Linked DNA regions of Homo sapiens. The protein of the gene in region 1 purifies or fractionates together with the protein of each later gene. This does not show direct contact. Each region holds a gene or a part of one and is shown in the gene's direction. Other genes may lie near its edges.

Region 1 (7,043 bases):
CTTGGCCAACATGATGAAACCCTGTCTCTAATAGAAATACAAAAATTAGCTGGGCGTGATGGTGTGTGCCTGTGATCCCAGCTACTCAGGAGGCTGAGGCAGGAGAATCACTTGAACCCGGGAGGCGGAGGTTGCAGTGAGCCGAGATCGCACCACTGCACTCCAGCCTGGGCGCTGGGCAACAGAACAAGAATTGGCCAACTTGCCTACCACTTATTAATAGTACCTCTAATAGGTGAGATTAGAAAAGGTGATGTGCCAAGATGAGGAGGTGGAGTTTTATCCAGACCTCATTTATCTGCATTCCTGTTCCTTCCCAGTCACACTGGGAAGTGAGCTCCCCTGCTCTTAGCATCAGACACATCCTGGAAAGTGTGGGGCAGTGTTGCGTAAACGGATTTTTCTTACAAGTGCTATGGTGACAGAAAGCAGCCTCCTCAGTCAGCACGGCCGGCATTTATCACACATGTGGCATGCGCGCGGCACCGTGCTAACTGGATGTCCTGAGGAATTTAAGCAGGTACGATAAATGCAGTGTATACTGTGGGAGCACTTAGGGGAAGGGACTGATTTGGTCAGAGATGTTAGGAAAGAGGAAGCACCTGGTGACAGCTTCCCAGAAAACACTGCATTGATTGTTAAAGGACAAAAGCAGTTACCAGCAAGCAGGGCTGGGAATTCCACTCAGATGGCACAACCCAAGCAAAGGCGCTGAGAGACCTTGGGGAAAACTGGGATCCACAAGTACTTGGGTTTAGATTTGTGCAAAGTATGACCTAAGGAATGGCCAACTAGGCTACAGAGGGAGGTGCAGCTGGGAAGCCCTTCCACATAAGACCGTGGCTGAAGAAGAGCCAGTGAAGGGTTTAATCATGGGAGGGTGTCACATGGTCAGATTTCTGTTTTAAAGTAAATTACTCTGGTGTCTGTGTGGAGGAAGGCTGGAAGGCTGAAGGTTTGCTGGCAGAAAGACCATTCAGGAAGGAGGGCTTTGCCAAGGCAGTCATCAAGGATGACTATTTTCCATTACTATATAATTTTTTAAATTCTTCAAGGGCTCACAGTTTGATTCACAAAGTTAAGAACTATGTGGGGGCAGGAGACTCCATTTATTTAATTCTAAAAGGGAGCTGCCTCAGAACCAGATGTGGGACTTAGTCGTTTGCACCATCTGCTGTGGGTATAAGCACCGCATACCTGTTTCATTTTCTTCCTCAAAAAGTTCTCCAGGATTGGCTGTATGTTACTCAAACAATAAAAGCACACAAGTCAACAAGTATCAGAGTGCCTACTTAGACAAAGCCAATGAATACATTACCATGGATGTTGCATAAGCCAATACATCAGGGTGGGTTTTGAGAAAAGTGTGCCATAAGCTGCTCTACAGCTTTAAATCACTTTAAAGGTCACTGATGGAATTTTTCAGTCGATCCTAATATAGATTTCACAGCAAGTACCCATTGCTGTAAGTGACAGTGAACCCAGGAAAGGCAGAGATCTGCTCACCAGCATAGACCAGACCACGTGAATGGGAAGGGGCTCAAAGCATGTATGAATAGGAGTCACCATCTGGGGGCCGGGCGCAGTGGCTCATGCCTGTATTCCCAGCACTTTCGGAGGCTGAGGTAGGCAGATCACCTGAGGTCAGGACTTAGAGGCCAGCCTGGACAACATGGCAAAACCCCGTCTCTGTTAAAAATACAAAAATTAGCCGGGGAATTTTGAGAGGGAATACTTGAGAGGCTGAGGCAGGAGTATCAAGCGATTCTCCTTGATTCTTAATTTCATTGAGCCGAGATTGTGCCACTGCACTCCAGCCTGGTCTCAAAAAAAAAAAAAGTCACCATCTGGCCTTTGGTTGGTTATCCACCAAGGATATTCTGGCATCATCAGGAAGAAAATATTCCTGTTGTCCTTTCTACAACCAAGATCCTGTGATCTAGATGGCAGGTATATTTAATGGCAGAACAAACTATCCCAGCAATAATAAAGGATGAGAACCACATGACTCTTTGGCTAGAGGCTTCTCTCTCTTTAAAAGAGTTGCCTGAACATCTTTGGCCTTAAGCAGACCACATCCTCTCTTAGATGGAATAGAGTTAAGAAATAGGCCCACACATATGGCTGACAGTTGATTTTCAACAAAGGTGCCAAAATAATTCACTGGATAAAGTATAATCCTGCAAATGGTATCTGCTATTGGATATCCATATGCAAAAAAGTGAATCTCGATCCTTACCTCATACCATACACAATAATCCAAAATGGATCATAGACCCAAAATGTAAGAGCTAAAGTATAACCTTCTGTAAGAAAACATAGGAGAAATTCTTTGTGCCCTTAAGCTAAGTAAAGACTTCTTGGCCAGGCACGGTGGCTCACGCCTGTAATCCCAGCATTTTGGGAGGCTGAGGCAGGCGGATCACCTGAGGTCGGGAGTTCAAGACCAGCCTGACCAACGTGGAGAAACCCCGTCTCTACTAAAAATACAAAATTAGCCGGGCGTGGTGGCGCATGCCTGTAATCTCAGCTACTCGGGAGGCTGAGGCAGGAGAATTGCTTGAACCCAGGAGGCAGAGGTTGCACCATTGCACTTCAGCCTGGGCAACAAAAGCAAAACTCCATCTCAAAAAAAAAAAAAAAAAAAAAGAAAGAAAGAAATTCTTAGGACACAAAAAGCATGAACCACAGCAGAAAACATTGAGTACACATATATCTGATAAAGGACTTACATCTAGGCTATACAAAGAACTCTTACAACTCAGTGAGAAGATAAAATTTAAATAGACAAAAATTTGAATAGACACTACATCAGAGAAGGCATACAAATGACAACTACATGAAAAGATGTTCAAAGCATTCATCATTAGGGAAATGTAAATTTAAACCAACCACAATGAGATACCACCACACTATCTAGAATGGCTACAACTAAAAAGAATGATAGGCCAGGCACGGTGGCTAATGTCTGTAATCCCAGCACTTTGGGAGGTCGAGGCGGGTGGATCACCTGAGGTCAAAAGTTCGAGACCAGCCTGGCCAACATGGCAAAACCCCGTCTCTACTGAAAATACAAAAAATTAGCCAGGCGTGGTAGCACACACCTGTAGTCCCAGCTACTTGGGAGGCTGAGGCAGGAGAATTGCTTGAACCCGAGAGGTAGAGGTTGTGGTGAGCCAGGATCGTGCCACTGCACTCCAGCCTGGGCAACACAGCGAGACTCCTTCTCAAAAAAATAAAAATAAAAAATGATAAAACTAAGGGTTGGCAGCATGTGGAAAAACTGGAGTCTTCATATGTTACTGCTGTGAATATAAAATGATACAGCCATTTTGGAATAGAGTTTAATAGTTTCTTTAAAAGTAAACATATACTGATTGTATGACCCAATAATTCCTTTCCTAGAGAAATGAAAACACATGTCCACACAAGATTTGTACACAAGTGTTCACAACCACTTACTCATAGCAGCCAGAAGCAATCCAAATGTCATCAATTGGTGAATGGATAAACAAAAACAATGGCATGTCCATAAAACTGAATATTGATCAGTAAGAATGATTAGCATGCAACATATGGAATAATCTCAAAAACATCATGCTAAGTGAAAGAAGTCACACATTAAAAAGTTCATAGTGGATGATTCCATTTATCCCATATTTCTAGAAAAGGCAAAACAGTAGCAACAGAAAGCAGATCAGTGGTTGACTGAGGTCTGCAGTAGGAACAGGAATTGACTGCAAAGAGGTACTAAGGTGATGGAAGTGTTCTAAGACTGGTGGTAATGGTTTATGTAAAAACTTACCATCATAAATCAAACTCCACAGCCAAAAACAGGTGAATCATATGACATGTAAACTATACATCAGTAAAGTTGGTAAAAACAAGTAACGAACTCCTAGGTACAATGAACCCTCCTTCCCACAGCACTACTTCCCACAGTGGTTTGTACAAACCAATTTCACTCTATTGTTTTTTAATGAGTTTACCTGTTATTTCTTCTCTGAAGGTGCTTAGGTTCTGCAGGGTGGGGCTCTGCTCTCCCTTATATAGAACAGATCCTATATTTTTCTTTGGGGACATTTTTTAAAGTTCTGAGAGAGAGAAGATGTTCATTTTGATGCTACTTTAAGCAAGCTTTCAGTCTATTTTTTTTTTTTTTTTTTTTTTTGAGATGGAGTCTCGCTTGTCACCCAGGCTGCAGTGCAGTGGCGCAGTCTCGCTCACTGCAAGCTCCACCTCCCGGGTTCACGCCATTCTCCTGCCTCAGCCTCCCGAGTAGCTGGGACTACAGGCGCTCGCCACCACGCCTGGCTAATTTTTTGTATTTTTTTAGTAGAGACGGGATTTCACTGTGTTAGCCAGGATGGTCTCGATCTCCTGATCTTGTGATCCACCCACCTCGGCCTCCCAAAGTGCTGGGATTACAGGCGTGAGCCACCGCGCCTGGTGCTTTCAGTCTATTTTTAACACATCTTAGGCAGAACTGAAGTAACTTTTTGTTTATTTTGTTTCATTAGGTTTTCAACCAGATGAAGAAATGAATGAAATCTGCAAGACTGAATTTCAAATGCGATTGCTATGGGGCAGCAAAGGTGCACAAGTCAATCAGACAGAGAGATATGAGAAATTCAACCAGATTTTAACTGCCCTCTCGCGTAAATTGGAACCTCCTCCTGTAAAGCAGGCAGAGCTTTGATAACTCTCCAGAGAACCTTTAGAATATCTTTTCAAGTTTCCCCAGCTTCATCTTTGGGAAAGCTTACTGTTTTTGATAAAGTAATAATGTGCAAATCTGACAATATACAAGCTTTTAGTATCCACAGGATATTAAACGTGTAAATTGCACAGAGCACACTTATTTATGAATTGTCTAAAGTTACTACTGATTTTAAAATGAATAATTTATTATTAAGGTAACTACTGCTAATGTTGATCAGCAAATTTAAGAGAAGACCTAGCTATGTTGGCTGGTTGCTTTCTATTATCATGGTATTTGACCATTTTAGTTTTAATTCCATGTCAGATAAGTGTAAATAGAAGAGTTTAAAAGCATGAAACATTTCAGAAGGTATCAGTTATATGATATTCTTTAAACAAATATGAAAAATGTAAATACTCATGAATGAAAATACATCTTTTTGTGAAACAGTTGTATCCAGTCTCTTTCATATTAAACAACTCATCTTGGTACAATAACTCTACCTCTTAGCTACCTCAAGCATGCTCTTCCCTAGGTACCGTATCCTGATAGTAAACCAAAATGAATGAAAGTGGTATGAAAAATTTAATGTTCCTGGATTAAAAGGCAGAGTGATTGATAGTGACACAAGGTAGAAACAGCTCGAGAGGACCTGGGTTCAAACTCAAGCTATGGTACTTGCTACCAGCTGGAGTTAGGCCAAGTTTACCTCATTGAATTCCATGTGCAGCATGGACACCCAGTATGATGAACATAACATCATCTCTTCACATATTTCAGAGTAATCAACTGTTTTACCTTTTCCTCTAGCTGATAAGTACAACAATGAGTTTCCTAGGTTGGCTTTCTAGGTTTCTCATTTTGCAAAGGGGATACTTTCTAGTTTCTTTCTAGTTTAGCAATATCCCTCTCAACTTTCCCTATTGTACAAAATTTGGAATATAAGACTTTAACGTATTCTGTTACTCTGCCATCAACTGTCAAACTTCTTTTAATAATCTGTTTTTCCTTCTTCTATTTTAAATAATATTAGGACCATACCAACTTTTATATTCATCTTAAACCGGCTGTGAAAATTTCTTCATGATGTTAAATAGCCTTTAAAAAATATGATTTATTGGTTACAGAAGTTACACTGTAACTTAACTATCACCCTATGATGGTTTTTAAAAATGTGCCACATTTTTTAAAAGGTGCCACGTTGTTATTTTTTGTTGAAAAAAACCAAAGCACATTTCTACTTCTGGCAATATGGTGGTTCAGATGTTCTTAGCCCTCTCACCATAACTAACTAAATCCTGAATACATTTTAATAAACATACCTTTTAGTGTATGATCAACCTTGATAGAAATCCCCAAGGAACAAACTTCTCTCCCCGCCGCACCTGAAAAAGGTACAGCACATTTGAATCAACTCCTCATGAGAACTTAAGAGCCGGGGCAGACCTAGAGGCAAAGAGTAACGTCAGCTCAGTGAATGAGAGTCTGTCTTGGGGGAACTTAAAATGCCTCCATTAAGCAGGAATCCTTAAAGGGTCCCTGTTAATGGAATAGAAAACATTCATCTGCCAGCAAAGGAAGGTTGCCAGGAAACATGACTGTCTTCACATACAGCTCCAGGAAGAAAACAATTATAATGACTATAGTGTTCAGTGAGGATTGGCAACCACACACCTGTCCTCATACAGGTCTGGAGTAAAAATTACAAAATCCAAAACCAAGAAATTGATTTACAGTGGTCCCAGGTTGGTGGTGTCTACCAGATATAAAAGCTTATTATTAAGCTATAGTAATTAAGGTTTCATCAGAAATTTAACATGACAGAGTGAAACTGTTGATAAATGGGGGAAATAATGACTTTAATTCTTGAACAATTGGTTAAGCAAATGAAAGGGGGAAAATGGCCTCTTACCTCTTATCATATACAGAAATAAAATCTGGATGAGTTAAGAACCTACATGTGAAAGGCAAAATCATAATACTTTTAGAAGAAAGTATCTTTTACTTTGAATCAAATAAGAATTTCTTAGAAAAAGCATTAATTATAAAATAATGATTAATCTGCATTAAAATGAATAAATTCCATTCAAAAGACATCATAGAGAACCTGAAAAATCAGAGATATTGACAACACATAAAATGGACAACAGAATACTATGGTTGGTAGGCAGCCTCCAAGATGGTCCCCAATGTTCTCTGCCTCCTGGTGCTCACACTCTGTGTTGTCCCTTCCTGCATTATACCAGGCTTTGTCTGTGCCACCAAGCACACAGGGCAGAAATGTTGCATCTGAGATAGGTTATGAGAAGACTGTAGCTTCTGTCTTGAGTCTTGGATCACT
Region 2 (7,161 bases), on another chromosome or scaffold:
ATAAACACACATCTAAGCATTGTTTGTCCCCTGGAATATCCTGGAATACAAAACCTCTATTATAAAACCAGATTCTGTTGCTATCTGAAGTATTTTCTTTCAGGCCAATTCCCTTGCCCTTTAGTTTTTAGCACAGTTAAATTAATTTTTATGTTAAATAATTAAATCATCGCCCAGGGAGTACATGCCTTCTAAGAGTGAATGTCCATATTATGTATGGAAATTAAGAGTGAATGTCCATATTATGGATGGAAATCCTGTTTTTGTCCCAGCGCTGAGTATAGGAGAGGCAAGATTGGACTCAGAATAAAGGACAAGAAAAATAGTTTTTCAGACTTTATTTTAAATGACAGCACGTTTGAAGTCAAGGGGACAATAGATAATGGGCACTTTGCTACAGTTAAAGAAAAAAGGGAACAGGAAAGGCATTTTATTCTAAATGATTATTTACAAACGCATTAAGAAACTAAAATTATTTTCCATAATGTCAGTGCCGTTTTCTTTTTCTTTCTTTCTTTTTTTTTGGGGGGGGTGGGGGTATGGAGTCTCGCTTTGTTGCCCAGGCTGGAGTGCACTGGCACAATCTCAGCTCCCTGCAACCTCTGCTGTCCACGTTCAAGAGATTCTCGTGTCTCAGCCTCCAGAGTAGCTGGGACTATAGGCACCCGCTGCCACATCCAGATAATTTTTGTATTTTTAGTAGAGATGGAGTTTCACCATGTTGGCAAGGCTGGTCTCGACCTCCTAACTTCAAATGATCTGCCCGCCTTGGCCTCCCAAAGTGCTGGGATTACATGCATGAGCCATTGCGCCCAGCCCAGTGGAGTTCTCTAGAAATACTTCTGCCAGAGATAATGAGAAACTTGACTGGCAACAGAGTTGTGTCTAAGGCTGAGCAATGGGCTGCCGGTGAGGGCCTGGTCCTGGGAAGATGGGCCACCGGGCATCTTCTGGCTTGGCCAGTGCTCAGCTCTGCCTCTCACACCACAGGGCCTGGACAGTGGTTTTTAAACCACCCATTTATCTTTCCAGATTTTCTGCTCACCCAATTAATTTTGGGGTCAGAGAAGGATGAAGAGAGACTGAAGATATCAATTTCTCCAAATAATAAGGACTCTGGGTGATCAAACACATGAGAGAATTCATGGAGAAAGGTTAGAACTGGAACAAAAATGTCCCAAATTGTTTCTTCAGTCATTGCTAGAGATTCAGAGAGACAATGCCAGAGAGACGGAGGCTAGGAAACAATTGTGGAACGCTATCTACAAACTTAGCAATGTCCAGTGAGAAATAGAGAAGCAGTACAAATACAGATGGTTTAAAACCTGGTGCTAAATGGCCACCAGGGCAAAACAAGGGCCATGAAACCTGGAATCACTGATGCAGGAAATTAGTCCCTCCCAGGCTCCCTGTTAATTCACGAATTCAAATAAATATTATAGATATTACAGATTTAATTCAGATCCTCTCATTTTCATAAGGCAGAATAAGTGGGAGATAAACTCTATCAGTTTCTCTGCAAAGAAAGAAAAAACTGAAACACATATCAAACACCCCAACCTCTCCACTGTATTCTAAAGGTCTGGCTTCTCTCCCACTCTCTCAAGGCAATAGCATGACTTGACACTTTCTAATTTTGTAGGAGTCACTAAGAATAAAGACAGGAGTTTGGACTGGCACAAAGGTTTAGAAGCCCACACAATCTCATTTATAATAGCACTCAAAAATAAAATTCTTAGAAGTAATTTTAACCAAAAAAGTGAAAGATCTGTACACTGAAAACTATAAATATTGATGAATAAAACTGAAGAAGACACAAATGAATGGAAAGATATCTTGAGTTCATGGATTGGAAGAATTAATATTATTAAAATGTCTACACTACCCAAAGTGATCTGTAGATCCCCATCAAAATTCCAATGCAATTTTTCACAGGAATTAAAAAAATACTAAAATTGGCATGAAATCAGAAATGACCCCGAATAGCCAAAGCAATCTTGAGCAAAAATAACAAAGATAGCGGCATCATGCTCTCTCATTTTAAAATGTATCATAAAGTTATTGGAAGCAAAACAGCATGGTCTGGTGTAAAAGCAGACACAATAACCAAAGGAAAGGAGTAGAAAGCCCAAAACTATACCCAGGGCTTTATGATTACTTGATCTTCAACAAAGATGCCAAGAACACACAATGGGGAAAGGACAGTCTTTTCACTAAAAGGTGTAAGGAAAACTAGATATCCACAAGCAGAAGAATGAAATTGGACACTTATCCCACACTATACACAAAACTCAACTCAAAATGGATTAAAGACTTACATAAAAGACCCGAAATTGTAAATCTACTAGAAGAAAACATGGAGGGAAATCTTTATGACATTTTTCTGGGCAATTATTTCTACAACAGGACTCCAAAAGCAAAGACAACAAAATCAAAAATAGACCAAGGAGGTTACATCAACTAAAAAACTTCTGCACAGAAAGGAAACAAAAAGATGATCCAGGGACTAGGAGAAAGTGTTTGCAAACCATATATCTGATAAGGGGCTAATATCCCAAAGATATAAGGAATTCAAACACTCAATAAGACGAAAACAAACATCTCAATTTAAAAAAGGGCAATAAACCTGGCCCACAGATATATGAAAAACACACTCGACATCACTAATTATCAGGGAAATGCAAATTAAAATCATAAAGAGGTAATCATCTGTTAGAATGGCTTTTAACAAGTAGACAAATAATACGTGTTGGTGAGGATATAAAAAAAAGGGGACCCTTGTAGGCCATTGGTGGAAATGTAAATTAGTGCAGCCATTTTGGAAAATAGTATGGCGGTTCCTCAAAGCACTGAACATAGAATTACCATATGACCCAGCAATCCCACTTCTGGGTATATCTCCCAAGAAATTGAAATCACTGTATCAAAGAAGAATCTGCACTCCCATGTCCATTTCAGCATTATTCAAAATAAGCAAGATATGGAATTAGCCTAAATGTTCATCAGTGGATGAATGAATAAAGAAAATATGGTATACATGCAAGATGGTATACCATATAGCCTTAAAAAAGAAGGAAATTGGCAGGGCGCGGTGGCTCACTCCTGTAATCCCAGCACTTTGGGTGGCCCAGGCGGGCGGATCACGAGGTCAGGAAATCGAGATCATCCTCGCTAACACAGTAAAACACCGTCTCTACTAAAAATACAAAAAAATTAGCCGAGCATGGTGGCGGGCGACTGTACTCCCAGCTACTCAGGAGGCTGAGGCAGGAGAAAGGCGTGAACCTGGGAGGCGGAGGTTGCAGTGAGCCGGGATCGCACCACTGCACTCCAGCCTGGGCGACAGCAAGACTCCGTCTCAAAAAAAAAAAAAAAAAAAAAAAAGAAGGAAATTCTTCATTCATGACAACATGGATGGAACCAAAGGACAATGTGCTAAACGAAATAAACCAGACACAGGAAGACAAATACTATATGATATCACTTACACATGGAATGTTAAAATGTCAGTTTTATGGAACTAGAGTACAAAGGTGGTCATCAGAAGCTGCAGGTGGGTGAGATAGGAAAAGAGAAGATGTTGAGCCAAGAGTACAAAGTTTCAGTTATGCTGGAGAGTCTTAGTGATCTATGGCACTGCACGGTGACCACAGTTAATAGTGATGTATTGTATCTTTCAAACTGCTAAAGGAATCAATTTGTAATTCTCCTTAAAAAATTAAGTTGGTGAGGTGATGGCTATCTTAATTAGCTTATGTGTTTCTCCCATGTGGATATCAATCCAAACGTCACATCATACCCTACAAATATACAGAAAATTATTTTTCAATGAATAAATAAATAAATTTGAAAAAAATTAAATGAGGAATTCAAATATAGAGACTCTCCAAGGGCCCACTGAGCCCCAAAGGATTTGGATCAAATATGGTGATATTATGGAAATATGTAGTAATATCTTAAAAATGTGTAAGATATAGTCTCTTTTTTTTTTTTTAAGAGAAAGGGGTCTCACTATGTTTTTAGGCTGGTATCGAACTCCTGGTCTCCAGTGATCCTCCCACCTCAGCCTCTCAAATAGCTAGAAATATAGGCATGTACCACCATGCTGGCTTAAGATGCATTCTTTGACACAGCAATTCTATTTCTATAAGTTTATCCATATAGGTAAGAGAACATATATACAAGATAATCACTGTAACTTTACTTATTACTGCAAAAGTTTAAAAATAACCAAATTGTAATAATTTTATAATATTTTATCAGTACAAAAAATAAGTGATGGCATATACAAACCCTGGGATAGTATAAGGCTATTAAAATTATAATAGCATTCCATGTATTTTGATATACAAAGTGCCAATGTTACAGGTGAAAAAAGCGAAGTGCAGAATACTATGTGTAACTGTTAATAGTGATGGTTTGCTGGGTCAGAACTGAAGGCCTGGGGGTAGAAATGAGAGCTCATGACTTCTACCTTTTGAATGTTGTTCCTTGTGCATGATTTACAATTTTCTAAAACTAAAAAAAAAATCTCAGAAAGGGGCTGTACGCACCTAAATTACTTTGATATTCCCCAAAGTGGAGAGAAGTACCCGCTACACATTTTATGTGATGCATTCAGATCACACCAACTCCTTGAACTAAATCCGAATTTTTATTTTAATCTGATAAACTTGGCCTACTATTTTACTGAACTCATTTCCCCTATAGCCTGATAAGGTCATTGACCTCTCCATACTGGCACCAGCGGGAGACTACTCACCTCGAGATCTCAAAAGCCTCCTACATGAGGTTAGTAATATCCCTGAATCCTGCAATGAATTAACTCTCTACTCCACTGAGTCCCAGGTCTGCCCCCAGAGAGTCATCCAGAGAGTACCAGGGACCATCTTCAGAAAACAAGAGGCATTTGATCCCCAAACTTCTTGAATGAAAGCGCTGTTGTTTTTCTTTTTTGAATATATAAAAGTAAATACTCAAGCAGATGGGAAACAGAACAGGATAGTAATACCCTTATCATCATTAACACCTTGGATCAAGAAGAGGCATTAAGCATACAGACTCACGCTTTGATGAAAGCTGGGAGAAAGAGGAGCATCAAAGGGATCTTGAGAACAAAGGCAGTCCTTCCCCTCCCAATCACATGCCCACCTCCTCTCACTGCAGCTTCTGTCTCAGGTCTTCTCCCAGCAGAGCTATAAATCCAGGCTGACTCCTCACTCCCCACATATCCACTCCTGCTCTCCCTCCTGCAGGTGACCCCAGCCATGAGGACCATCGCCATCCTTGCTGCCATTCTCCTGGTGGCCCTGCAGGCCCAGGCTGAGTCACTCCAGGAAAGAGCTGATGAGGCTACAACCCAGAAGCAGTCTGGGGAAGACAACCAGGACCTTGCTATCTCCTTTGCAGGAAATGGACTCTCTGCTCTTAGAACCTCAGGTAGGAGACATCAATCTTGCACATCTGCAAAATCTAGAAAAAAAGGATTGGAGAAAGGATCTGGAGTCAAGTGTGGAAAGGTCTACCTCACTTGAGTGACTTTACTTAATCTTCCTGGACCTTGATTTTCTCATCTATAAATTAATCAGTGAGAACCAAATAAATCTAAAAGATTTTCTTTTTTCTAAGACTTTCAGTTCCAAGATATTTCTGTGAAATTTGCTACTTTTAAGATAGAAAGAGCTACACTGACTAGTTCTTTGTAGATCTAAATGGGCAGACTTAGTTATATAGAGAGTGTTTTACTTTGTCCATTGGAAAAGCTTTTAGAACCTAGAGAGGAACCTATAGGTGTGTTTTGATGTAGGCTAATAGGCTTGATTAAATCTTTCTACAATACATCCTTAGATCAAAACATCATATTGTGTCTCATACATATACACAATTATTGTTTGTCAATTAAAACAAGTAAATATGTAAAATGTTAAAAAAAAAAAAAAAAAAAAAAAAAGGAGAGACAGAGAATGAAGAATTTGAATTTGGAAAGTCTTCAAAGACTCCTTGAGCACCAAAGTATTTGGTCCATGACATTAGCATGCACAATGCGGCATTTCAGAAACTGATTCAGGTGCTTTAGGGAGCCTTGTTAGGACCTGGAAATCACACATGGAGGTCAAGATTAGGCGTGTGGATGAAGCAGAATGAAGAGTAGGTAACCCTGAGGTTGAGAGGTATATTGTTGGACCAGGGAGCAGGTAATAAATACATCCTGGATAGACTCACATGGGGAAAAAAACTATGATCTTGCATGACTAACACATAGCTAGTAAGATTTCTTGTCACTTACGACAAAGACATGAATTTTCTCCATCCTAACATGACTGATACAGTGTCTCTTATTTAGACTATCTCAGTTAGTCTGGCTGTGCTTGTCCTTTTTCCCACCTCCCTCGCTGTGCCTGACCCTCTCTTCTTTCCACAGGTTCTCAGGCAAGAGCCACCTGCTATTGCCGAACCGGCCGTTGTGCTACCCGTGAGTCCCTCTCCGGGGTGTGTGAAATCAGTGGCCGCCTCTACAGACTCTGCTGTCGCTGAGCTTCCTAGATAGAAACCAAAGCAGTGCAAGATTCAGTTCAAGGTCCTGAAAAAAGAAAAACATTTTACTCTGTGTACCTTGTGTCTTTCTAAATTTCTCTCTCCAAAATAAAGTTCAAGCATTAAACTTAGTGTGTTTGACCTTTTTAATTTTCTTTTCTTTTTCCTTTTTTTTCTTTTGCTTTGTTATATGGTGGTTTGTATGGTTCCTTTGTATTGAGAATTCTGATCTACATTAAGTTAACTGGTCTTTGCATTCCAATGATGCACAATTTGAGCATCATAGAGCAATAACAAAATAACAAAAATGAATATAATTGGGTTTTTTATTGTTGTTGTTTGAGACAGTGTCTAACTTAGCCACCCAAGCTGGAGTACAGCGGTGCAATCTCGGCTCACTGCAGCCTTGACCTCCTGTGCTCAAATGATCCTCCCACCTCAGCCTCTTGAGTAGCTGGGACTACAGGCATGTGCCACCACACCCTACTAATGGTTTGTATTTTTTTGTAGAGACAGGGTTTCACCATATTGCCCAGGTTGGTCTCGAACCCCTGAGCTTAAGTGATCTGCTCTCCTCAGCCCCCCAAAGTGCTAGGATTACATGCTTGAGCCACCATTCCTGACAGG

What was found.
Region 2: the proteins of BCAR3 (region 1) and DEFA5 purify together in Homo sapiens (affinity purification with mass spectrometry; 2 studies listed by BioGRID and IntAct, with this or other methods). This does not show direct contact.

The regions. Positions count from the first base shown.
Region 1 is NC_000001.11:93,559,897-93,566,939, reverse strand, and holds the end of BCAR3 (breast cancer anti-estrogen resistance protein 3), read left to right. Parts: intron 1-4,520; coding exon 4,521-4,699; 3' UTR 4,700-5,199; downstream 5,200-7,043. UniProt on the Homo sapiens protein: Acts as an adapter protein downstream of several growth factor receptors to promote cell proliferation, migration, and redistribution of actin fibers.
Region 2 is NC_000008.11:7,054,804-7,061,964, reverse strand, and holds DEFA5 (defensin alpha 5 preproprotein), read left to right. Parts: upstream 1-5,225; 5' UTR 5,226-5,267; coding exon 5,268-5,439; intron 5,440-6,421; coding exon 6,422-6,534; 3' UTR 6,535-6,661; downstream 6,662-7,161. UniProt on the Homo sapiens protein: Host-defense peptide that maintains sterility in the urogenital system.